Linked DNA regions of Homo sapiens: regions 1, 3, 4 and 5 are each linked to region 2. Evidence: fine-mapped expression QTL. A gene starts in region 2. Each other region holds a variant in brackets. All regions are shown on one strand. Distances are between the middles of the regions. Region 1 overlaps LOC105375123 (a long non-coding RNA gene). Region 2 holds the start of CHLSN (cholesin). Region 3 overlaps CHLSN (cholesin). Region 4 overlaps CHLSN (cholesin). Region 5 holds the start of LOC124901570 (a long non-coding RNA gene).

Region 1 (5,101 bases), 460 kb after region 2:
TGGAAAGTGGGTAGCCGGGCTGCTGGCCTTCTGCAGGACTGGCCAGGGCAGGCTCAGTGGGTGTCGGCTGCAGAGGGAAGATGTGTCAGAGGGAGGCAGCAGGTGCACAGGTGTGTGGACAAATATGTGGACAGACGTGTGCACAGGGGTGTGGACAGGTGTGTGTGTGTGGACAGGCATGTGCACAGGTGTGTGTGGACAGGTGTATTAGTTTGTTCTCATGCTGCTGATAAAGACATACCCAATACTGGGTCATTTATAAAGGAAAGAAGTTTAACTGGCTCACAGTTCAGCATGGCTGGGGAGGCCTCAGAAAACTACAGTCATGGCGGAAGGGGAAGCAAACACGTCCTTCTTCACATGGCAGCAGCAAGGAGAAGTGCAGAAGTGCAGCGTGAAGCAGGGAAAACTATCAGACTATCAGATCACTTGAGAACTCACTCACTATCACGAGAACAGCATGCAGGTAATCGCCCCCATGATTCAATTACCTCCCACTGGGTCCCTCCCATGGTACGTAGGGATTATGGGAACTACAGCTCAAACTGAGATTTGGGTGGGGAACTACAGCTCAAAATGAGATTTGGGTGGGGACACAGTGAATAGACATGTGTGTGCACAGGTGTGTGGACGGGGTGTGCAGCCTTCAGAGACTCAGAAGGCCAGTGGTGCGCAGGCCCCCGGGGGCGTGACTGGGCCAGGTTGGAGCCCTCCAGGCTGAGCCTGACCTGGCAGGTGTGCAGGGGGTGGGCTGCCCTGCCAGGCGGGTCAGACTTCTGGTTGGCAGCAAGACAGGAGTGTCCTGGGCTGAGTGGAATTCCCAGGCCAAGGGTCTTGCACAGGAGAAAGGGTGGGGGGTGGGGCTGTGCTGATGCAGAACCCCAGAGAGGGGCTCTGGTGGACACCACCCCACCTGTGATGGCCACAGTTTGTGGTGGGAGCAAGGTCTGTGGGGTTCCATGGGTGGGCGGGGTGGTGGGAGGCAGCATCTGTGGGCGTGGGCTTCTGAAAATGCTGATCAGGCGGGTAGGAGGGGTGGCTGTTGTGAGGCCCAGCCCATCCCTGGAGCGACAGTGGGAGGGTTTTGGAGAACCAGACTTGGTGGGGAGGTCACTCTGGAACTGGGATTCAGAGGCTCAGCTGCGGTGGTGCTTGAGGCTGTGTGGGGTCCGAGGAGAGGTGGCTCCCAGCAGGCGAGGCCTCGAAGGGGCTGTGCAGCCATGCGGAAGTCACTTGGCCTCTCTGGGCTGTGTCCTTGTCAACGACTTCAGCTCCCATTTAGCTTCCCCAGGGCCAGGCCCGGGTGACAACACCCCAGATGTGTGGGACTTGTGACCAGTGTGGACCCGAGAGAACTGGGAGGAGGTACAGGAGCGGGGAGCCCGGTCCTGGTGGCTGGGACTATCAGCAGGGAGTTATGGGGCAGGAACAGGGAGAAGCCAGAGCTTCCCGCACCTTCGGGGCTGTGGTCCGAGGGGCTGGGTGCTGGGACGCCTGTGACTGGGGAGAACAGGGCCTGGCAGGGCCTCCCTGGTGAGGCGGGGGAGAGTGGAGGCCCTGGGCGATGCCCGCCTGTTTGCGACATGAGGGTCTCTGGCAGGAAGCCAGGAAGACAAGCCCCTCAGGGTCCTGGGTGTTCAGGGTGTTTGGAAGCCCAGAGAGCTCAAATGGAGGACAGAATCCCCCTGAATGCTGGCGGAGAAGGTCGAAGAGGCCGCAGCTGGGGACATTGTGACCAGAGTGGATGGCCTTGAGCGAGGGCAGCAGGAGCCGTCCCCGTGCATAGGGCAGCGGGGTGGCCGCCGAGTCCTCCGTGGCTCACGTCCCCGCAGAACCTGATCTGCTCGTGAGCTTGGCAAGCATCTCCTGGATTTTTAATTTGTGGGAGAAGCGACCTTTTATATTTCAGATCACATGAAGTTAATTTGCACTCCAAGTTCAAGAGAGCTCCTGAAAAGGTACAAATGTGATTTCTTAACAGCTGTTACTGTCGGGCGCAACATGACAGAAATGATGAGAAGCAAGAGTTCATTTTTAGACAGAGAGGACTGCACGCTCTCTCCCTAGAGCCAGCCCAGGATGGCAGCAATCAGAGAAGAACCCGAGGGAGCCTGAAGGCCAAACACTCACCTTGTGCGATGTCCCTGACCCATAGCTGTCCTGTCTCTGTTTGAATACCTCCAGTGACAGAGAGCTCACTACCTCTAGGAGTGGCAAAGTCTAATGTTGGTTGGGTTTGGTCAAATCTGCTTTTGCTGATTCTGTTCTGCCCTCTGAAGACACACAAAATAATGCCCGTTCCTTGTCCTCAAGGAAGTGGCTCTCTCATCTGCTGCTGACCACCTCTGATTCCTTAAGCACGCATATGTGTGCTGATGTCTGGGTCCAGCCCACCTTGGTCCCTGGGAATGGTCTGGTTTTCCAGTGTCTCTAAAGTGGAGGCCTTGGGACCAACAC[C/G]ATGTTCCTTTTCCTGGTGGACCAGCCAAGATTCCTATCACTTTTCCACTTCTGGGTGCTGTACCCAGCAAGGCGGGGAAGGTCACGTTCATGCAGAGCTTCTGAGGTACCTGTCATCCCGCCTGGGTGTCGGGGAGCAGGCTCTGTTTGTGGGGTGCTGTGGCCAGCGCTGTGGGGGATAGGGCAGGAGAAGCAGCCCGCAGGGGGTTAAATCCGGTGGGTGCAATGGAGTTGGCGGTGTTGGGAGCTGGCGGTTTTAGGATGAACCTGCCAGTCCAGGGTGGGGCTCAGCTGCTACCCAGGGAAAACTTGCCCCGTACACCAGGGCTGAAGCTGAAACAGTCAGATCCTCTTTCTCAGTTATTTGGGGGAATTGGGGACAGTGGGTTTGTCCCTGCTGGTGGCCATGGGGTAGCTTTATTTCCCACCGGATGTGGGAAATCTAAAGTCTGGTTTTCAGAGAAAGGAGAGAAGGGGCCGGGTGTGGTGGCTCACGCCTGTGATCCCACCACTTTGGGAGGCTGAGGCGGGCAGATCACCTGAGGTCAGCAGTTTGAGACCAGCCTAGCCAATATAGTGAAATCATGTCTCTACTAAAAATACAAAACTTAGCCAGGCGTGGTGGTGGGCACCTGTAATCCTAGCTACTTGGGAGGCTGAGACAGGAGAATCGCTTAAACCCGGGAGGCAGAGGCTGCAGTGAACTGAGATCGCGCCACTGCACTCCAGCCTGGGTGACAGAGCCACTGTGACCAGTGTTTCTTTGGTTTTTTCTTCTCTTGTAGAGATGGGGTCTTGCTCTGTCCAGCCCAGGCTGGTCTCGAACTCCTGGGCTCAAGTGATCCTCTCGCCTTGGCCTCCCAAAGTGTCTGGATCACAGGCATGAGTTGCCACACCCGGTCTCCTCATATGACAGAGCAAGACAGAGGGAGACTCCATCTTAAAAAAAAAAATAAAAAAAGTGGAGAAGGAGAGAAGGGGTCAGGGAGGCAGCCAGGAGGGAAGAGTGAAGTAAGAAGCAGATGAAGAGAAGCAGGGTGGGCACACACCCAGAGCCCCCCTGTGTCACCCGCCTGCTACCAGACCCAGGAGGGTCCCGTCGGGGTGGGGGTCCTGGGACTTAACTCCTCCTCCAGCCTCAGCCCTCCCGGTGCCAAGATTCTTCAACGTCCTCGGGATGCACCTCCGCACTGTGGGGCCATCTGGGTCAGCCCGGACGCACCGGCCTCTGTCTGGGTCCCAGTCTTCTCACCGCCAGGCGGGCAGGTCAGCAGACCAGGCAGGACCGAGCCCGTCGCCCGGGGCTCTTGTTGTCTGTGCCATTTCGGTGCCTTTTGTCCTTGCTTCCCGCCGCTCCTTGAGGATGTTTACCGGCTGCTGGGGCCGTGCCTTCCAGGTGAGGCCTCGGTCATTCCAGGTGCAGCCTCGGATCAGGGATGACGGCCCAGGCTGAAGTATCATGATGAAGAGCTTGGACCGAGGGCAGTTAAGGTGTGTGAGTATTCAGATCCCCCACGTGCCCTTCTCTGGAAGGTGCCAGCGACCTGTCCTCTCTGGGCCTCTGTCTTCTCCTCTGTGGAATGGGAATGATGGCGTCCGCACCTCATAGGGCTGCTGGAAAATGGGTCTGGGTCTCGGCTGGAATTTCAGCCAGCGCCGAGGACCAGAGGCCCTGGTTCCTGTCCACGTGGCCTGGGACCCCCGCGGCCCCGCACCTGGGCTCCGGGGGCAAGTGTGTTCGCTTTGAGGACCCAGCCTTGGAGGTCAGATGGCATCCGTTATGGGTTAAATTTTGTCCCCCTAAATTCATATGTTGAAGTCTTAACCCACAGGGCCTCAGAATGGGATGGTATTTGGAGCCCGGGCCTTGAAAGAGAGGGTGACAGTAAAATGAGGAGACTGGGTGTGGCAGCTCACGCCTGTGATCCAGACATTTTGGGGAGGCCAAGGCGAGAGGATCACTTGAGCCCAGGAGTTCGAGACCAGCCTGGGCTGGACAGAGCAAGACCCCATCTCTACAAGAAAAGAAAAAAACAAAAAAACAGTGGTCACAGTGGCTGATGCCTGTAATCCCAGCCCTTTGGGAGGCCATGGTGGGAAAATCGCTGGAGCCCAGGAGTTTGAGACCAGCCTGGGCAGCATAGCAAGACCTCATCTCTACTGAAAAAAAAAAGAAAAATTAGCTGGGCATGTTGTTGCGCCCGTGGTCCCAGTTGCTTGGGAGGCTGAGGTGGGAGGATTGCTTGAGCCTAGGAATTCAAGACTGCAGTAAGCCGTGATGGTGCCACTGCACTCCAGCCTGGGTGACAGAGCAAGACCCTGTCTCAAAAACAAAAGTCCAGTGAAGTTATAGGGGTGGGCCCTAATCCAATCTGACAGGTGTTCTTATATGAAGAGGAGATCAGGACACACACACACACAGAGGCACGACCCTGTGAGGACCCAGGAGGAAGACAGCGTCTGCAAACCAAGGAGACAGGCCTCAGTAGGAACCAGCCCTGCCCACGCCTTGGTCTCGGACTTCAGCCTCCAGGACTGTGAGGGATGAATGCCCATGGCCGGCGTCGCTTGGTGTGTGGCGTTTGTTCCGGCAACCCTGGGAGGCTGGTGCGATGTCTCTTTGGTCTTACTCTCTCCATCGAGA
Region 2 (5,101 bases):
CCTGTAATCCCAGCACTTTGGGAGGCCGAGGCGGGGAGATCACTTGAGGTCAGGAGTTTGAGACCAGCCTGGCTAACATGGTGAAACCCCATCTTTACTGAAAACACAAAAATTAGCTGGGTGTGCTGGCACCTGCCTGTAAACCCAGCTACTCGGGAGGCTGAGGCAGGAGAATCGTTTGAATACGAGGTGGAGGTTGCAGTGAGCCGAGATCGCGCCACTGCACTCCAGCCTGGACAACAGAGTGAGACTCCACCTCAAAAAGAAATATATATATATATATATATACACAATTTATTTATTTATTTATATAAAATAAATATATAAATATATTTACATAAATATGTATTTATATAAATATATAAAAATATATATGAATATATAAATATATAAGTATATATAAAAATATATATAAGTATATATAAATATATAAGTATATATAAATATATATAAATATATATAAGTATATATAAATATATAAGCATATATAAATATATATATAAAATATATATGTATATATAAATATATGTATAAATATATAAGTATATATAAATATATATAAATATAAGTATATATAAATTTATATAAATGTGTATATAAATATATATACATAAATATATATAAATATATACATAAATATATAAATATATATACATAAATATGTATAAATATACATAATTATAAATATATACACAAATATATAAATATATATAAACATATATAAATATATAAAATATATATAAATATATATAAACATATATAAATATATAAAATATATATAAATATATATAAACATATATAAATATATATAAACATAAATATATAAATATATAAACATATAAATATATATAAACATATATATAAATATATATAAATATATAAACATATATATAAATATATATAAACATATATATAAATATATATAAACATATATATAAATATATATAAACATATATAAACATATATAAATATATAAACATATATAAACATATAAATATATATAAACATATATAAATATATATAAACATATATATGAACATATATAAACATATATAAACATATAAACATAAACATATATAAACATATATAAACATATATAAATATATATAAATATATAAAAATAAATATATATATGCGGATGTGTGTATAAACTGTGTATATATATAACTATATATATAACCATATATATGTACTTATATATATCATCTACACATATATCATCTCAAGCTTAAGAATTCGTAATCAATACCCCTGATCACCCTCCACAAACCTGAGCTTCCTAGTGTTCATCCTCTCCATAAACATCCATCTGATGAGGTTCACATAGTAGCTCAAGCTTAAAACCTTGGTCCATCCATAAATCCTCTCTTTCTCACATACTCGTCCAACCCACCACAAACTCCTGTTGGTTTACCACTGAAATACACCCAGAATGTGACTCCCTTAAGATCCCATAGGTACCCAGTCCAAGCCACCACCTCTCACGATGGCTTTTAAACTCCTAAATCAGATGGTGTGTCACCTCCACTCAAAAAACTTCCCAAGCTGTCCCCTTCCACTTGGAGGGAAAGTCAAGGTCCTTGCCACTTGGTAAGGTCCACACGACTGCCCTGGCCCCTCCTCGCATCTCTGGGAACTCACCTCCTCTTTCTCTCTCTGTTCCCAAATTGGCTGCAGCCACACTGGGCTCCCTGCTGTTTCCCCTGCACCTGCTGTTTCCTCGACCTGGAATGTTCTGGTGCCTCACTCCTCCTCCTGCTTCCTTTCCATTCTCAAAACCCCTGTTCTCATCTTCTCCATGGCACTTACCATCACCTGCTCTGTGCACCTTGTTCATCTGTCTCTCCCCTCCAGAATGGAAGTTCACTAGATCACAGACTTGTCTCCACTTGTTGACAGCTGTAGCCCAATGCCCCGAACAGTGCAGGAGGAACCCAATGAACGTTTTTTAAAAATGAATGAATGAATGACGGAAGGAAGGAAACGGAAAGCATGCTTATGATGGAAAGTGAGGCCAAGCGCGTTGGCTCACTCCTGTAATCCCAGCACTTTGGGAGGCCGAGGCAGGAGGATCCATCGCTTGAGCCCAAGAATTCGAGACCAGCCTGGGTAACATGGTGAGACCCCATTTCTACAAAAAACATTTTTAAAAATTATCCGGGTGTGGTGGCGCGCGCATGTGGTCCCAGCTACTTGGGAGGATGAGGCGGGAGGACGGCTTGAGCCCAGGAGGTGGAGGCTGCAGTGAGCTATGATCACGCCATTGCACTCCAGCCTGGGTGGCACAGCGAGACACTGCCTCAAAAATTGAAAAAGAGAAAGTGGGAGCTGAAAGCCTCGGAGGGCAATCAGGGCGTCTTCAGAGAAAGACAATGAAACCAGAGCCACTGCAAGCCCTGACGGCCTGAAACCTAGGAGCCAGCTGAGTCCCTTCCACTCGCCCGCGCTGAGTTAACCCAGAGGCGGGTGCGGGTGTCGGAGCCCGCGCCGGGACGCACCGGCCGCACCGGCCGCACCAGCCTCCCCAGCACCGCGGACCCCAGGGCCGCCGCCCGGTCGCGCCGCGCCGGGCCTCCGCGCACCCACGTGGAGGGGGCGGAGCCCCGCGGGAGCCCGCCCCGGGGCTCTGGGTCTCCTGGCGCCCTGACCCGCCGGCCACCCCGCCGCCGCCCCACGCGCCTACCTGCGCCCACCTGCGCCCACGTCGCCCACCTAAGCGTGAACAGCTGCGTCGCGGACGCCGCCTTCCGGCAGGGACCCGCGCCCCAGGTAAGCGTTAGTCCCGCCTTCAGGAGTGCGGAGCCTCCCATTGGACGAGGTCTGCGTCCGTCTCTCCGCCGGCTAATGGCAAGCGGCGGCAGCACGGGGGGCGGTTCCAGGACCGGGCGCGGGCTACTGACGCCATCTCTAGAGGCCTAGAGTTGCTTGGAGAGGAGCTGGTTGCCAAGGCAACCCGCCCTGCCCAGAACAAGTGCAGATGACTAGGTTTGGGCCCCGCAGGGCTTGGGGGTCTGGGGTGCAAGCTGCCCCGGCCGGGCTGGCGTCCCGGGGTGGGGCCTCCGCCGAGGGTCCAGGGTATGGAGCTCGGCTCGGAGTCGAAATGGATGAGCTACGGCTATTGGGATCAACAGGGCTAGGACTTAAACTTCGTGCTGAATTTAAAAAATCAGGATAGGTGCTAAAAAATACACAGGGTGGGTAGTGTTATAATAATGCTTGTGTCCGGGAGCGGTGACTCACGCCTGTGATCCCAGCATTTTGGGAGGCCCAGGCGGGCGGATCGCTTGAGCTCAGGAGTTCGAGACCCGCCTGGCCAACATGACGAAACCCCGTAACCCCGTCTCTGCTAAAAATACAAAAATTAGCCAGGCGTGGTGGCAGGTGCCTGTAATCCCAGCTACTCGGGAGGCTGAGGCAGGAAAATCGTTTAAGCCCGGGAGGTGGAGGTTGCAGTGAGCCGAGATCGTGCCACTGCACTCCAGCCTGGGCGACAGAATGAGACTCTGTTTTAAAAAATAAAAAATAAATTAAAAAAATAAAAATTAGCCGGGTATGGTGGCACGTGCCTGTAGTTCCTGATACTCTGGACGCTGAGGTGGGAGGATCGCTGGAGCCTGGGAGATGGAGGCTGCAGTGAGCTATGATCAAGGCACTGCACTCCAGCCTGGGCAACAGAGCCAGACCCCGTCTAAAAAAAAAAAAGAAAAAAAAGCATGCTTTCAAGTCACCCAGTAAGTTAAGTGCTTGGCAGCCGTATCAAGTATGATGTACGTTGCCTCAGGAATCCAAAGGTGACAAGCAAAGAAGGTGCACTCTTCCTTACTGGTAGAAGATTGTATTTGGTTCCTTTTTCTGCATAACAAATTAACCCAACATTTAGCAGCCTAAAAGAACATTTATTTTTTCATGGTATCCGCGGTCAGGAAAGTGGGCGTGGCTAAGCTCTGTGCCTTTGCCTCAAGGGTTCACCAAGTTGTGGTCAAGGTGTCCCCCCAGGGTTGTGGTTTCATCGGAAAGCTTATCTGGAATGATCCACTCCCAAGCTCACACACACGGATATTGTAAGGACTCAGTCCTCCAAGGTCATTAGAGAAGGGCCTCAGCCTTGCTGGCTGCTGCCCAAAGGCCACCCTCAGTTCCTTGGTACATGGGCCTTACCACAAGGAAGCTCACAACACTGCAGCTGGCTTGCCTTAGACGGTGCAAGCACACACAAGAGGAGGCACACACAAGACGCACATCACAGTCTCCTTGCACCCTAATCTCAGAAGTGACTTCCCTAGGCTTTTGCCATATTCTGTTCATTAGAAGTCGGCCGGGTGCGGTGGCTCACACCTGTAATCCCAGCACTTTGGGAGGCTGAGGTGGATGGATCACTTGAAGTCAGGAGTTCAACACCAGCCTGGCCAACGTGGCAAAACTCCATCTCTACTAAAAATACAAAAATTAGCCAGGCATGGTGGCATGTACCTATAATCCCAGCTACTCAGGAGGCTGAGGCATCAGAACCTATTGAACCCGGGAGGCAGAGGTTGCAATGAGCTGAGACCGCGCCACTGCACTCCAGCCTGGGCGACAGAGCAAGACTCCAGCTCAAAAAAAAAAAAAAAAAAAAAGTGAATCATGGCCAGGTGCAGTGACTCAGGCCTGTAATCCCAGCTCTTTGGGAGGCTGAGTCAGGAGGATGGATGGACACCAGGAGTTCAAGACCAGCCTGGGCAAACAGTAAGACCTCATGTCTACAAAAATAAAAATAGAAAATTAGCTGGGTGTGGTGGTGCACGCATATAGTCCCAGCTACTTAGGAGGCTGAGGTGGAAGGATTGCTTGAGCCTGGAAGATGGAGGCTGCAGTGAACTATGATCACACCACTGCACTCCAGCCTGGGTGAAAAAAAAAAAGGAAAAAAGGAAAATAATTTTTTTTCATTTTTATTTTTGGAAATTGATATGGTTTGGCTGTGTCCCCACCCAAATCTCATCTTGAATTGTATCTCCCATAATTCCCATGCATTGTGGGAGGGACCTGGTGGGACATAATTGAATCATGGGGGCAGTTTCCCCCATACTGTTCTCTTGGTAGTGAGTAAGTCTCATGAGAT
Region 3 (5,101 bases), 140 kb before region 2:
CTTAGCCCAGCCCTGGGTGTCTTCAGGGAGCTAAGGAGGAAGTCACAGTAGACGTCCGTGGGTCACAGTGAGGCCAGTCACCGCTCTGAGGTGCAGGCCCCGAGGGCCACGGCTGAGGAGGCCCAGCCAGGCCAGCAGTGGCCACGGGAAGCCCCAGGCCCTCCCCACAACAACAGCCCGGAGCCTGTGACTCTGCTCTCACAGGGTGAGGCCGGCCGTGCTCCCGCCTCCCGGCTTGCATGCAGCTCTGTGCGTTGGTGGCAGCCAAGGCAGGCAGCCTGACCTCAGCCTCAGGAGCTCTGTTGGGGGGCGGGGCACCCAAGGGGGCACTCAGGGCCTGAGCCAGCGTCCCAAGGCTGCCAGGTGGCGGCTGCAGCTACTTTTCTGCTCCACCGTCAGTTGGGGGAGCACTGAGACGGCAGCACAAACCCCCAACCTGGGCTGGGCAGGAGGCGGCCCCGGGGCAGCAGCACCTGGGTGTCTGCTCTGTGGAGGCCCAGACCGGAGCCACTGGCCTCAGCCCTCCCCGGGGCCCATCCTGGAACAGACTTGGCCTCACAGTGGGGCACGGACCTCCTCGCCATGGCCACCCGGCCCTCCCCGGCAGCTGCCCAGAGCTCTGCGGTCACCACGGCCTTCCCGGTGCCCCGCGGCACCTCACATCACTTGGGGGCAGGGACCACGTGCTGCTGGGAACAGGAAGTGTGTGGCTTGATTCTGTGCGGCCTAAGTGTGTTTCCTGGCAGGGTCAGTCACTGCCAGCGCTGGGAAACGGCCGGCCTGAACGCAAGCGATCAGCCAGCACCCACTGCCAGGAACGCCACACACAGAGCGCCCCCAATGCCATCCTGGGGTGGCCACCAAGGGCGGGGTCTCAGCCTGGCGTGCGCTGGCATGGGGGACACGAATTCCGCAGTCCACAGGCAGGGGACGCACCGCACAGAGCAGGACCCACGGCTGCTGCTGGGTCGGGTTTTATTTCAAATGCAGCCACAGAGGCGGTTTCTGCACAGGTACGTGATCCGACTCCACAAGCTCCCACCAGGGGCTCCCCATGACCCGCAATGACGCTGTGTGGGGTCAAAGGAAAACAGGCCACAGCCAGGCCCCTCGATGGACGCAGGCAGGGGACCAGGAATGCGGCCCACGCAGGGGGATCGGGAATCAGGCGGAAGGTGCAGGTTTGCAGCTGGCGGGAGGAGCCAGCATGCCCCAATCTCTAAAATATTCCCGGTAGAAAAATAGACATTTCCCTCCAAAGCAGATTCCTGGGGCTGGAGGGTCCCTCCAAGGCCAGGGGTCCGGGTGATTCCAGAGCATCCACGCTCTGCGCTGAAGGCACTGAACCTGCCATCACTGTCACAGCCGTCACCGGCCAAGGAGGGTCTGGAGGAGGGAAGGGGCCCTTGCGAGGCTCTGGTGCTGGTGATCCCGGCCCCCACCACCGGAGGAGCTGAAAGCCCTTGCTCAGCCGCTGCCCTGCTGGTGAACCCGGCCCCCACCGCCGGAGGAGCTGCACCCTGTGTGGTCTGAGGCAGCCCTGCACTGGGCAGCGGCCCCGCCCCGCGCTGAACCCACTAGGAGAGCAGCTGCAGCACCTGTCGGATGCGCTGGGCCCTCCCCGGCAGGGGGGGATCAGAGCCCTCCTCATCCAGCTCCCGCATCAGGGCTTCCGCCTTCTGCACCGTCAGCTCTCGGGCCCGGCCCTGCAGCCCCTCCAGGTAGGCCAGCAGGGTGGAGAAGTGCTCATCGGGAACCTGGACGGGAAAGAGATCGAGTTGGTCAGGGGCGGGGCAGGGAGGGGCCGCTGAACAGCAGGAGACAAGACGCTGCAGCCAAGGACACCCGGGCCTCAGGCTTCCGTCCTCCCACTGCGGCCCGAGGGTGTGGGCGGCCTGGCCACAGACCCTGCCCCAGACACTGGAAGAAGAAATGCCTGTTTAGAGGCAGACAAAACACTCAATTAACCTGGGTAAAACAGAAGCCATGTGGGGAGAACATTTCACAAACATCGTAAAAATCCTCAGAAAAACGAGAAAATACGACACAAATTAAACAGGGGTAGGCGGTGATGAAAGGTGCATTCAGAACAAAAAGCCAAGTACGCGCCGGCACTTGGCACGCTCGCCTTTCTGCTCAGGGCGGCAGTGGCCAGGTGGCATCTCTTGGTGGCCTGACCCTTGTCTGCTGGTGGTGGGGGCACCTCTGCACAGGCTCACCAGTCACCTGACAATCTGCTCTGCAGGCACGTTTCCTCAGGTCCCTGTGGCAGCGGCTTTCAACACTGGGCTCTTTTTATTATTGAGTTAGCAGAGTTCTAATTCCATGTGGGACTTGCAAACGTCTCCCATTCTGTAGCAACCATTTCACTTTCCAGCTAGTTCTGTATGCAGTGCAAAGTCTTAGATTCTTTTTTTTTTTTTTTTTTTTTTTGAGCCGGTCTTGCTCTGTTGTCCAGGCTGCAGTGCAGTGGCACGATCTCCACCTCCCAGGTTCAAGTAATTC[T/G]CCTGCCTCAGCCTCCCAAGTAGCTGGGATTATAGGCAAGCATTACCACACCTAGCTAATTTTTGTATTTTTAGTAGAGACGGGGTTTTTGCCATGTTGGCCAGGCTGGTCTCGAACTCTTGACCTCAAGTGATCCACCCGCCTCAGACTCCCAAAGTGCTGGGATTACAGGCGTGAGCCACCACGCCCGGCTACACAGTCTTAGATCCTGATGAAGGCACTTTCTCGACTTTTTCCTTTGTCGCTTGTGCTTCTAGAGTCACATTTAAGAAACTGTTGCCTCACCCAAGGGCACGAAATGGACTCTTAGGCTTTCATCTAAGAGTTTTGGTTTTAGCTTTTAAATTTAAGTCTCTGATCCATTTTGAGTTAATTTTTGCATATGGTTTGAAGCTGGGGGCTGCGTGCATTAAGTATCGGCATGTTCGTAAATATGTACGGTTACATATGAAATAAAAATGTATAAGTAAAATGCACATTTGTGTGTTTGTAAATATGTTTAATTACAATAGTGTAAGATAACTTTGCGTGTGTGTGTGTGTGTATACACACATATAAATGGCTAACCAAGGATTTGCCTAACCAAGGATTATTTTTCTGTATAAAAAGTTTTGTATAAAGTTTACTTTTGGTAATAGTAACATATAAATAAAACCACGTAAACTTTGGTTAAAACAAAACAAAACGTGGAAACCCAGTTGTCCCTGGCTCTGTTAAGAAGAGGTTTCCTCCACATGGAACAGGCTTGGCCCGCATGCTGGAATCAGCTGCGCCGGGCGTGAGGGTTTCCAGGCTTCCCAGGCTGTTCCAGTCAATTCTACTTCCACCCTTGTGCCTGCCCCAGTGTCGCGATTACCGGAGCTTGCAATAGGGCTTACAATCGGCTTGCAATAGGGCTTGCAATGTGTATGTCCTCTAACTCTGAGGAGGGAGAGTGGCTTGAGCCCAGGAGGTCGAGGCTGCAGTGAACTGTGGTCGTGTCACTGCACTCCAGCCTGGGCGGGGCCCTGTCTCAAAAAACGCCCACAAAAAAACAAAAACAACAAAATAATGAAAGCAAGTGGCTGCAGGCTATGCCTGGAATGTCCCAGGGCTGTGAGTGGGGCTGGTGGGCCTGCCCCGCTCTGAGAGTCTGCAAACACAGGCACGGCAGGAGAAAACCGCCCCCTGCCCCCAGCGCGCACGCAAAGCCTGGCCTCTAGTAACGTGGGCGCAGGAGAGCCAGCGAGGCAGGAGGCACTGCCCACCGGATGCAGCTCAGCAGAACCGTGGGCTCCTCCAGCCTCACAGGACATGGGCAGCTCCAGCCCGCCGCCCAGCAGCCGGGTTTAGTTCAGAATTCTGTCTCGTTTCATCCTGTGAAACTCTATCTCACATCCTGCCCCTGAAAAGGGCAGCTGCCCACACGTACATGTGTAGACACACATCACGCGCACACACGTGTAGACACACGTCATGCACACACGCACGTGTAGACACACGTCACACGCACACGTGCAGGTGGCCTCCCTAAGGTTACCCCGTGTTGGTTTCTGCCCTGAAGGCCGGCGGCAGGGCTCCTGGAGGAGGCAACGCTGCTCATCTCTTAGAACAAAGGCACCGGGAGACCTGCCCTGCAGTGGGGCCCTGAGGGCGGCCCCTTCAGACTGTGGCTTCTGCTGTCAGGGCCCCAGTGTGCACAGGAGACGTGCCTGCCCCGCCGTGCACAGACCTCAGCCCCCAGGAGACGTGCCTGCCCCGCCGTGCACAGACCTCAGCCCCCGGGAGACGTGCCTGCCCCGCCGTGCACACACCTCAGCCCCCGGGAGACGTGCCTGCCCCGCCGTGCACACACCTCAGCCCCCGGGGGGACGTGCCTGCCCCGCCGTGCACAGACCTCAGCCCCCAGGAGACGTGCCTGCCCCGCCGTGCACACACCTTGTCACTGTCATACATGTGCAGCAGGAGCCACGTCTGCCTCGTCTTCTGAAACCTCCAGTTCTTGTGCTTTTGGGCCCATCTAGGGAAAGAAAGACAAACATCTCAGGGTGCTGGGCAAAAGACTCCCGGGCAGCTGTCTGCCCTGAGAGATCGGGGACGCCTCATCTTAGGAGAGGGAGCCCCACCAGGTACTACACACCAAGGCCTCATGTGAAGAGGGTTTTTGGAGCCCCTCCCCTGCCCGAGGCGAGGAGCCGCAACCCCACGCCCTGCTGCCGCCTGACCAGGAAGCATGTGGACGCCACTCTTACCTTGGCCACCCCGGGGCTCACCACTGACCCCAAGTCCCCGTGGGCTCCCCCACCCCATGGGTCACACGGATTTTACAGGGGGGGAAGGATGAAGTGAGTTTCTCTGGGAGGAAAGGGAGCGATGTAATTGATGATGTATTTTCTACATGAAAATGGGAAGACTGTAAGGAACAATACCCTGAGTCCCAGGCCCTCACAACAAGGGGCCAGTGGGCCTGGGGACGAGCAGCTCCCGGCTGCTAGAGGGGCCGCTCCCCAGGGCCACAACCACCCCGCCCCCGTCCCGCTCCTGCACTAGGGCCTGTGGACATCAGGCAGCTGCGGATGGAGCGAAGCTGGCGCTGTGGGTAGGGCAGGGCCAGGCA
Region 4 (5,101 bases), 110 kb before region 2:
GTCTCTGCCACTGGTGTCCGCACCCCGCTTTCAGAGAAGGAAGTGTGTGCTCAGTCACCGGTTTCATGGGAGGGACTCAATTCTGGGCCTTCTGAGCCCCAGTGGCCTTGTGTGCTGACTCCCCAGTGTGTCCCCAGCATGAATGCGCCAGCCCACACAGTCACCTGCCTCCATGAACGCGCCAACTCCGCGCATCCACCTGTCTTCCCGAACGCAACGACCCACGCATCCACCCACCTCCATAAACGCGCCAATCCTGCTCATATGCCGTCTTCACCAACGCACCAACTCGCACAGCCACCCGCCTCCACACCTGAGCCCGGGGACCAGGTTTCTTCTCCCCGTAGTTCTGTGCTGGTGGCTCTGGGCTGCTTTGGGAGACAAGGACAAGAGCAGGAGCGGGAGAAGCTGGCCTGGCAGTGGGGTGCAGTCCCCCGGGCTGGGCCACTAGCCCCACAGGGATGGGGACGTGGTGCCGGCTGAGGACCCAGGGGCTTCACTCCACTCCATCTCACGCTTCCAGCTACCCTGCTCTTTGCACTTCACAGAGGGGGAACCAAGCCCAGCAAAGGTGGACACATACCAGCTGCTATGCCTTCCTAGGTCCTGCCCAGTGACCCACCTGTAGGGCTGTGCTGTCCCCAGACCCATGAAGGCACACATAGGCTTGTGGCTTTGGGCAGGTGGGACTCTCTCCCCAGGCAGGCGGGGACTCTCTCTCTCCCGGGGCAGGGGGGGACTCTCTCTCTCTCCCGGGGCACGCGGGGACTCTCTCTCTCTCCCCGGGCAGGTGGGACTCTCTGGGCAGGTGGGGCTCTCTCTGGGCAGGTGCCACCATGCCTGCTTTCCCACAGCCCACACCCCGGGCCCCAACACAGAGCAGCAGGTGCAAGGCTGCTTACTGCACCGGCACATCCAACCACCTCCACAAACGCACCAGTCCATGCATCCACCCAGGCTGAGCTAAGGGCCCCTTGTACCTAGTACAGTCTCAAGGGTGGAGTGGCCAGGAGGGAGCCCTCCCACTGCCTTGGCTTGAAGCATCAGTGGCCAGTGGTCCACACTGAGACCCTAGAGCCCCCTCCCCCAGCAGGTCGGCAGGTCCTGGTCAGGAGGAGGGGCCAAGAGGAAAGGAAGGGCCCCCAGATAGCTGGTGAACTGCTTCCGTACACGGGATGCCGTTCCACACGCTACATATCTGGACAGAACAAGACAAAGATGCGTGCCCATTGAGAGGCTATGCTGAGGCTGTAATAATACTGAGGAGAAAAGTTAAGGGTAGGCTGTTTTTCTGAGATTTAAAATGGTTGGGGGAGGAAGGAAATCAGCGAAACAGCACCACAGGCGGCTCCTGGGCAGAGACCAGAGACCTGCAGGGAGGGCAGAGTGGTCCGGGGGGGCAGAGACCTGCAGGGAGGGCAGAGTGGTCCGGGGGGGCAGAGACCTGCAGGGAGGGCAGAGTGGTCCGGGGGACCAGAGACCTGCAGGGAGGGCAGAGTGGTCCGGGGGGGCAGAGACCTGCAGGGAGGGCAGAGTGGTCCGGGGCGGCAGAGACCTGCAGGGAGGGCAGAGTGGTCCGGGGCGGCAGAGACCTGCAGGGAGGGCAGAGTGGTCCGGGGCGGCAGAGACCTGCAGGGAGGGCAGAGTGGTCCGGGGCGGCAGAGACCTGCAGGGAGGGCAGAGTGGTCCGGGGGGGCAGAGACCTGCAGGGAGGGCAGAGTGGTCCGGGGCGGCAGAGACCTGCAGGGAGGGCAGAGTGGTCCGGGGCGGCAGAGACCTGCAGGGAGGGCAGAGTGGTCCGGGGCGGCAGAGACCTGCAGGGAGGGCAGAGTGGTCCGGGGCGGCAGAGACCTGCAGGGAGGGCAGAGTGGTCCAGGTGCGGGGGGCGGCCAGCAAACACCACCCGGGGAACGGGCCGAGAGTGCGGGGTGGCTGCGAGGACGTGCCGAGGGGGTGAGAGCAACCTGGTCACCAAACCTTCCCCAGGTAATGAGAATTCGCCTTCGAAACCTGGGCCCAGGCACCCCAAGACCATGTGGAACATTCTGAGTCATTCAAAAAAGACATAACTATGTCTGACGCATTCTTTTAATTAACTGCCCTGCTCAGGTGGTCAGTGGGCCCCACTTCCCAGACACACCACGCCCCAGAGAATGCAGGGTAGATGGGCCCCAGATCCAGAGAACTGCTCCCGGCCCACGGGGCTGCCCCAACACGTCCCTCGCACTCGGCCCGCCTGAAAATAAAGTCTCTGAAATGGAACCTGGGGCTGAGGATGAAGCCCCCCGCAGGTGGATCTGCTGTTGGCCAGAGCAGAGAAGGTGC[C/T]GTGGAGGCCTCGGCGAGGCTCCTGTCTGCCAAATCACTTTCGTGGCATCACGAGAATCCACTGTGGAGGTGTGAGGGCCAGGAGGCCCTGAGAAGTGGAGGCCCTGGCCCTAAGAGGCCACAGCCACCCACCCACACCGCCAGGCACCCCCAGGTGACAGTGGCCCTCAGAGGCCGCAGCCACCCGCCCACACCGCCAGGCACCCCCAGGTGACAGTGGCCCTCAGAGGCCGCAGCCACCCGCCCACACCGCCAGGCACCCCCAGGTGACAGTGGCCCTCAGAGGCCGCAGCCACCCGCCCACACCTCCAGGCACCCCCAGGTGACAGTGGCCCTCAGAGGCTGCAGCCACCCGCCCACACCGCCAGGCACCCTCAGGTGACAGTGGTGCCCTTGGGCTGCTCCAGTCTGTCCATGACAGGCAGGGGCAGGAAAACCACCCAATCAGCAGGTCCCCAAGAGAAAACACTGGTCGGAGTCGCCAGAAAGCACGATGCTAGGGTACTGCACGTATGTGGGCAGCGCCTCTGCCCCAAGCATCCTTCCTCCAGCCCAGTCACACTGTCTGCCTGACCAATCCTGCACGCTCCTCACTACCCTGCCCGGATACCCCCTCTCTGGGAAACCTGTGAGCCCCAGGTTGCTGGAGGGCCTCTCCTCTGTGCACTCGCGGTGCGGACCCAGGCCACGGACAGTCTCGGCAAGTCCGTTACACACTGAAAGAAGACCTACCACTACCTCGATACGAGGGAACACAGCCCAGCTCGGTCTGTGAAGCTAGTAGAACCCTGATACCCAAACCAGATGAAAACAAAACTACGGACTAATATCCCTCATAAATACAGACGCAAACATCCTACTCAGCAACATGGAAAAAGAGTCACACACCATGCATGACAAGTGGAGTTCACTCCAGAGGTGGAAGGCTCGCTCACTATTTAAAAATCCATTGGGCCGGGCGCAGTGGCTCACGCCTGTGATCCCAGCACTTTCGGAGGCTGAGGCGGGCGGATCACCTGAGGTCGGGAGTTCAAGACCAGCCTGACCAACACGGAGAAACCCCGTCTCAACTAAAAACACAAAAATTAGCCGGGTGTGGTGGGTTATGCCTGTAATCCCAGCTGCTCAGGAAGCTGAGGTAGGAGAATCATTTGAACTTGGGAAGTGGAGGTTGCAGTGAGCCGAGATCACGCCATTTGCACTCCAGCCTGGGCAATAAGTGCGAAACTCCGTCTCAAAAAAAAAAAAAATACCATCGATATAATGCACCCTATCAACAGGCTACAGAAGAAATACGACGTGGTCAAACCAACTGATGCAGGGGGCATGTGACGAAGTTCAAGACCCACGCGTGGTAAACACCCAGGAAATCGGTAACGGAGGTGCCTCCTGAGTGAGGTGAGGAGACACCCAGGAAATCGGTAACGGGGGTGCCTCCTGAGTGAGGTGAGGAGACACCCAGGAAATCGGTAATGGGGGTGCCTCCTGAGTGAGGGGAGGAGACACCCAGGAAATCAGTAATGGAGGTGCCTCCTGAGTGAGGTGAGGCACATCTGCAGGTGCTCCTCCAAGGCCAGGAGCAGGGCAAGGGTGTCCACCCTCCCACTGTCCCCACTGCTATCCAGCATCAGGCTGGCCGGGGGCCACAGGCAGGAAAAGGACCAGAAAGGAAGAAATATAACTCTCTGTATTTGCAAGCGGCATGACCGTTGATGCAGGAAATCTCAGAGAATCTACGAAATAAATCCTGGGACTGTGAGTGGGTTCAGAAGGCATGGGACCGCAGACAGTCAGGGAGCTGGCAATGGGCTCGCGGAAACTGGCATTCCCGTGCTACCACCACCTACGACTGCTCAGCAACAAGGAAATGCTTAGCTGTAAATTTAACAAAACCTGTATGGGACTTAAATGCTAAAAACCACAAAACACTGAAGAAACAAACTTTGAAGAATCCAAATAAATGGAGAGACACATTGTGTTAATGGACAGAACAGACAGCAGAGTCAAGACATAAATTCTCCCAAAATTGAGGTACATGTTTCATGCAACTCCTACCGTAAATTTCAGGGTTTTTTTTTTTGTAGGTAAAGACAAGATTATTCTAAAACGTATATGGAAAAGCAAAGTAACAAGGATAGCTAAAACAGCGCTGAAATACGATGACTAGAAGGAACTGCATGCCTGATTTCGGGACATCGGACAGCTGTGGTGCAGCACGGGCAGTGGGAGACACACAGAGGAACAGAGAACAGTGAACCCAGGAGGTGCCCCATGTTAGCAATGTGATTTTTTCAAAATTTTATTTTAGGTTTAGGGGTGCCTGTGCAGGTTTGTTATACAGGTAAACTTGTGTCATGGGGGTTTGTTGTATAGATTATTTAATCACCCAGGTACTGAGCCTAGTACCCAGTAGTTATTTTTCACCTTCTCTCCCTCCTCCCACCCTCCACCCTCCTTTTCCTCCTCCCTCCTCCCACCTCCACCCTCAAATTCACTCCTGTGTCTGTTGTTCCCTTCTTTGTGCTCATGAGTTCTCATCATTCAGCTCCCACTTATAGTGAGAACATGTGGTATTTGGTTTTCTGTTCCTGCCTTACTTTGCTAAGGATAATGGCCTCCAGCTCCATCCATGTTCCCAGAAGACATGATCTCACTCTTTTTAATGGCTGCATAGTATTCCATGGTGTATATGTACCACATTTTCTTCATCCAATCTGCCATTGGTGGCATTTCAGCTGGTGTCATGTCTTTGCGACTGTGAACAGTGCTGGGCTGG
Region 5 (5,101 bases), 130 kb before region 2:
AGCCCTGTGGGTGAGTGGAATCCTGTGGGTGGGGAGTCCTGTGGGTGGGGAGTCCTTGGGTGAGTGGAGTCCTGTGGGTGAGTGGAGTCCTGTGGGTGGGGAGTCCTGTGGGTGAGTGGAGTCCTGCGGGTGGGGAGTCCTGTGGGTGAGTGGAGTCCTGTGGGTGGGGAGTCCTTGGGTGAGTGGAGTCCTGTGGGTTTGGAGTCCTGTGGGTAGGGAGTCCTGTGGGTGAGTGGAGTCCTGTGGGTGAGTGGAGTCCTGTGGGTGAGTGGAGTCCTGTGGGTGGGGAGTCCTGTGGGTGAGTGGAGTCCTGCGGGTGGGGAGTCCTGTGGGTGAGTGGAGTCCTGCGGGTGGGGAGTCCTGTGGGTGAGTGGAGTCCTGTGGGTGAGTGGAGTCCTGTGGGTGGGGAGTCCTGTGGGTGAGTGGAGTCCTGTGGGTGGGGAGTCCTGTGGGTGAGTGGAGTCCTGCGGGTGGGGAGTCCTGTGGGTGAGTGGAGTCCTGTGGGTGAGTGGAGTCCTGTGGGTGGGGAGTCCTGTGGGTGAGTGGAGTCCTGCGGGTGAGTGGAGTCCTGCGGGTGAGTGGAGTCCTGTGGGTGAGTGGAGTCCTGTGGGTGAGTGGAGTCCTGTGGGTGGGGAGTCCTGTGGGTGGGGAGTCCTGTGGGTGAGTGGAGTCCTGTGGGTGAGTGGAGTCCTGTGGGTGGGGAGTCCTGTGGGTGAGTGGAGTCCTGCGGGTGGGGAGTCCTGCGGGTGAGTGGAGTCCTGTGGGTGAGTGGAGTCCTGTGGGTGGGGAGTCCTGTGGGTGGGGAGTCCTTGGGTGAGTGGAGTCCTGTGGGTGAGTGGAGTCCTGTGGGTGGGGAGTCCTGTGGGTGGGGAGTCCTGTGGGTGAGTGGAGTCCTGCGGGTGGGGAGTCCTGTGGGTGAGTGGAGTCCTGCGGGTGGGGAGTCCTGTGGGTGAGTAGAGTCCTGTGGGTGGGGAGTCCTGTGGGTGAGTGGAGTCCTGCGGGTGGGGAGTCCTGTGGGTGAGTGGAGTCCTGTGGGTGAGTGGAGTCCTGTGGGTGGGGAGTCCTTGGGTGAGTGGAGTCCTGTGGGTTTGGAGTCCTGTGGGTGGGGAGTCCTGTGGGTGAGTGGAGTCCTGTGGGTGAGTGGAGTCCTGTGGGTTTGGAGTCCTGTGGGTGGGGAGTCCTGTGGGTGAGTGGAGTCCTGTGGGTGAGTGGAGTCCTGTGGGTGGGGAGTCCTGTGGGTGAGTGGAGTCCTGTGGGTGAGTGGAGTCCTGTGGGTGGGGAGTCCTGTGGGTGAGTGGAGTCCTGCGGGTGGGGAGTCCTGCGGGTGTGGAGCCCAGCTGTGCAGCTGCTAGGTGACACGCCAGCCCCATGTGCAGTGACGCAGGGCTCCTGCGTGATGAGAGGGGCCTCCAGGGAGGTTTAATTTTAGTTCCTTTCTTTTTAGACAGCCCCTCGTCGTCTGCTCCCCGGATGGCCGACCCGGCCAGCGTGGGCCCCTGTGAGGTGCACCCGGGCCAGCCAGGCCATGGCATCTGCCTGCTGGGGGCTGTTTTACTGCTGCAGGGCAGAAGTTGGCATCTCAGCTCTGCCACTTTCTAACTCTCCCACCTTGAGCTGCTGCTTTCCACCAGCCTGTTTCCTCCTTGGGAACGTGGAGTGGTGACCCCACTTCACGGGTGTTCCCAGAGCCCACGCACGGTGAGTCAGTCACAGCTGCTCTGCACACTGCCCTCCCATGGGGCCCGAGGCCACAGCACTGCTGGCCCACGGCACTGCTGCCTACGGCCCTGAACCAAGGGCGCCTCTCTCTCACCGAGCCCCCACCAGGCAGACTTCAAGCCAAGCCCATCTCCCTCACCACCGAAGATGAGCCGTCCCGCTCTTGGCCTCGTCACTGGGGGAGCAGACACAGCGAGGGGCGGGTGGGGTGCTCAGTGTCGCCTGTGGCTCCCACGGCACTGGGCGAGGCCTCCTGAGTGATGGCCGCCTCTGCCACCCACCCTGGGGACTGGTCCCTGCGCAACTGCAGACAGTTCACAGGATGCCTGACACAATCCTCTTTCTCTCTGCCTAGGTGGGGCAGCAGACAGGAGATCCCATCTTGGAAAAGGAAAGAGAGCAGTCAGAGGGAAGTCCCTTGTCCCCAGCATAGCGGGGGCCACGGCCACTGCAGGGTCATCTGTCCAGAGCTGCCTAGAGCGTCCCAGAGAGAAGAACCTCCTCCCCTGTGGTACTCACCAGCTGGGTGGAGAACCAGAGTCCCTGCTAGCCTACTGGGCTTTAAAAAAAAGCAGGGGCGGCTGGGAACAGTGGCTCATGCCTGTAAGCTGAGCACTTTGGGAGGCCGAGGGCGGATCACAAGGTCAGGAGACTAAGACCATCTTGGTTAATACGGTGAAACCCTGTCTCTACTAAAAATACAAAAAATTAGCCGGGCGTGGTGTCGGATGCCTGTAATCTCAGCTACTCAGGAGGCTGAGGCAGGAGAATCGCTTGAACCTGGGAAGCA[G/C]AGGTTGCAGTGAGCCGAGATTGCACCACTGCACTCCAGCCTGGCGACAGAGTGAGACTCCATCTCAAAACAAACAAATCAACCCACAAAAAGCGGGGACTTCTTGCTGAACCCCCTTCCAAAAGAAAACTGAGCGAGGGTCTCTATTGAGACAGCATCTGAAGCCGGCCCGCAGCCACAGCGTCCACGTGCTCGTAACTGCACCAGGAACTGCCAGCCGCGGTGAGCTGACGACCCAATGCCCATGAAGGCCCGAGCGGGGCTGGCGCGGACAGGGGCCGGGTCTCATGGGTTGGCCGCTCCTCCCATACTTGGAGCTGGGCTGTCCCTCGGCAGCGGGGCAGTGGGCCTGGGTAGGGAAGGACACCCAAGAAGTGTCCCCTAAGCTCCGCTGATGGGACAGTTTGGCCTCTGCTCTGGCCTGTCATTCCAGGGTTCCAGGCCCGGAGGCCACGGGGTGCAAGGAAGCTAAGACACCATGCTGTGCTGGGCAACATGGGGACCTGAGGAGGGTGGGCTTGGGCTGCCCCACGGCAGGAGTGACTTGCTCTCGTCCTCCCGCAGGTGAGTGGGGGACCCCGTCCCGGCTGGATCCGTGTGGCCCGGGTCCCAGTTCCTCTCTCTCCTGTGGGGGCACCACCTCCCGCCTCGAGCAGACCCAGGCAGGGGGCCGGCCCCCGAAAATGGTGAGCTAAAGCCTGCAGGGACCAGGGAGGCAGCGGTCACCTCGCCACCTGCCCCCAACGTGAACACCCAGCAGGCGTGTTCTTTTCTTTTTTCAGTTATATGGAAAGTAAATCTTCAATTTCCTGCGTTAAGCATATAAATAAACTCTTTTTTCTCTTTAATGAGGAACAGGCTTGCCCGCTGACAGCCGTGTGCCTCGCTCGTGTAACTACCACAGTGGACCCAGCAACCCAGAGACCCACAGAAAGTGGAGGGACTGCTTCCAGCACTCCCAAACTTCCGCCTATGCAAGGCCAGAGCAACACGGCTCTGAGCTGGAAAAACAGAGCTGGGTGACCAAGCCTGGGGCCCCTGCTGGGAAAACGAGGGGACAGTCACAGCACAGGGAAAGAGCACACGACGGCCACAGTGCAGGGAAAGAGCACACGACGGTCACAGCACAGGGAAAGAGCGCACGACAGCCACAGCGCAGGGAAAGAGCGCACGACGGCCATACTGCAGGGAAAGAGCGCACGACGGCCACAGCGCAGGGAAAGAGCACACGACGGCCACAGCGCAGGGAAAGAGCACACGACGGCCACAGCGCAGGGAAAGAGCGCACGACGGCCATACTGCAGGGAAAGAGCACACGACGGCCACAGCGCAGGGAAAGAGCGCACGACGGCCACAGCGCAGGGAAAGAGCGCACGACGGCCACAGCGCGGGGAAAGAGCGCACGACGGCCACAGCGCGGGGAAAGAGCGCACGACGGCCACAGCGCGGGGAAAGAGCGCACGACGGTCATACTGCAGGGAAAGAGCGCATGACGGTCACAGCGCAGACAAAGAGCGCACGATGGCCACATTGCAGGGAAAGAGCACACGACGGCCACAGCGCAGGGAAAGAGCGCATGACGGCCACAATCCCCCATCCCACCCTCTGGACCCTCCTCTCCCCAGCCCTGCTGCACAGCTCCCACCAGCCCCAGCTTCACACAAAGCCAGGAGCACCCCAGGAAGGCTGCAGAGAAGATGAACCCTTGAGATGCAAGAACAGCCCAGGGTATGGTCACAGGTCACAGGCCAAGGTCACCGTGTGGGGATGCTGCCCAGCCTGCGACCCGGGTTCTAGGGACGGGGCATGAAGACCCCACGGGCGCTGGGTCGACGTGTCTTGGGGGCAGAGCCTTCGGGGGATCTGGAGGGGAGACCCCCAGGGCATCCTGGAATGGGTGGGGTGCCTCCCAGAGAGATGAGAGGAAACTCTCCACCATGAGGGCTCACCAGAACAATCCGGGGTCTCCTCCACACACAGCCCACCTGGCTGCAGATGGCTTTGCCTCCAGGAGGAACCCCTCGTGGAAAGCCCATAAGATGGCCATGGGCCACGGCGGCCAGCATGTCCTTCCTGAGTCCCAGTCCAGGGCCTCTGCAGGGGGAGGACAACTCGGGCACCTACCTTCACCGCTGCCCCTGGGCTGGGGGCTCTGTGGTGGGCCAGCCGTGGCGTGGCCAGTGGTCCCCAGCAGCCCCCAGGCTGAGGACACTCCCCTGTGGGAATCCCCGGGCTCCCTCTCTTTGGAAAACCCTGAGTTGCCAGGGATACCGTGGGCTCCACACATCCACGTGGGCTCTGATCTGGCAGCCAGATGCGGCTGGGCTTGCGGGCACCCTTGGAGACCCCCAGGAAAGAGGAGAAGCTCCTGCCGGGGTGCCCGTGTCTGTGGCTGGCCTCCTGGTGTGTGGATCCCAGGCCTTGGAAGAAGCTCCTGTGGGAAGGGGCTGCTTTGTTTCTGAGAAGTAAGAGTCCCCCCTCCTCCCACACGCAGGACACAGTGCCTCCGCACAGGACTTGCCGCTGGGGGGTTGCGAGTAGCATGAGGGGGCCACGGGAAGGTCCCAGAGGGGGAGAGGAGGGTGAGGCTGA

Evidence for each region. PIP is the estimated chance that this variant, and not a neighbour inherited with it, causes the effect. A credible set is the group of variants that fine-mapping cannot tell apart.
Region 1: its variant is the best candidate, but not a certain one, in a credible set for the expression of CHLSN in putamen (GTEx, PIP 0.64).
Region 3: its variant is the best candidate, but not a certain one, in a credible set for the expression of CHLSN in prefrontal cortex (GTEx, PIP 0.50).
Region 4: its variant is the best candidate, but not a certain one, in a credible set for the expression of CHLSN in whole blood (TOPMed, PIP 0.74).
Region 5: its variant is the best candidate, but not a certain one, in a credible set for the expression of CHLSN in caudate (GTEx, PIP 0.62).

The regions. Positions count from the first base shown.
Region 1 is chr7:1,598,445-1,603,545 of GRCh38, forward strand. LOC105375123 (a long non-coding RNA gene) reads left to right here. Exons shown (of 8, transcript XR_001745048.2): 4 at 265-466; 5 at 1,982-3,723; 6 at 3,854-3,948; 7 at 4,837-5,064. Among named protein-coding and RNA genes, the nearest start is that of PSMG3-AS1, 31 kb to the left of the region's middle. The variant C/G (reference allele first, on the strand shown) is at 2,458.
Region 2 is chr7:1,135,506-1,140,606 of GRCh38, forward strand. CHLSN (cholesin) reads right to left here and starts at 2,742. Exons shown (of 5, transcript NM_001318252.2): 1 at 1,810-2,742. RefSeq lists silencers at 2,302-2,351, 2,362-2,811, 3,012-3,151 and an enhancer at 2,872-2,971.
Region 3 is chr7:996,048-1,001,148 of GRCh38, forward strand. CHLSN (cholesin) reads right to left here. Exons shown (of 5, transcript NM_001318252.2): 4 at 4,423-4,504; 5 at 959-1,757. The coding sequence ends at 1,578. Among named protein-coding and RNA genes, the nearest start is that of CYP2W1, 15 kb to the left of the region's middle. RefSeq lists enhancers at 1,191-1,731, 3,188-3,777. The variant T/G (reference allele first, on the strand shown) is at 2,506.
Region 4 is chr7:1,029,999-1,035,099 of GRCh38, forward strand. All of the region lies in intron 2 of CHLSN (cholesin), which reads right to left. Among named protein-coding and RNA genes, the nearest start is that of MIR339, 9.5 kb to the left of the region's middle. RefSeq lists silencers at 668-767, 828-957. The variant C/T (reference allele first, on the strand shown) is at 2,326.
Region 5 is chr7:1,002,715-1,007,815 of GRCh38, forward strand. All of the region lies in intron 3 of CHLSN (cholesin), which reads right to left. LOC124901570 (a long non-coding RNA gene) reads left to right here and starts at 1,445. Exons shown (of 3, transcript XR_007060184.1): 1 at 1,445-1,698; 2 at 2,075-2,731; 3 at 3,074-3,357. The variant G/C (reference allele first, on the strand shown) is at 2,510.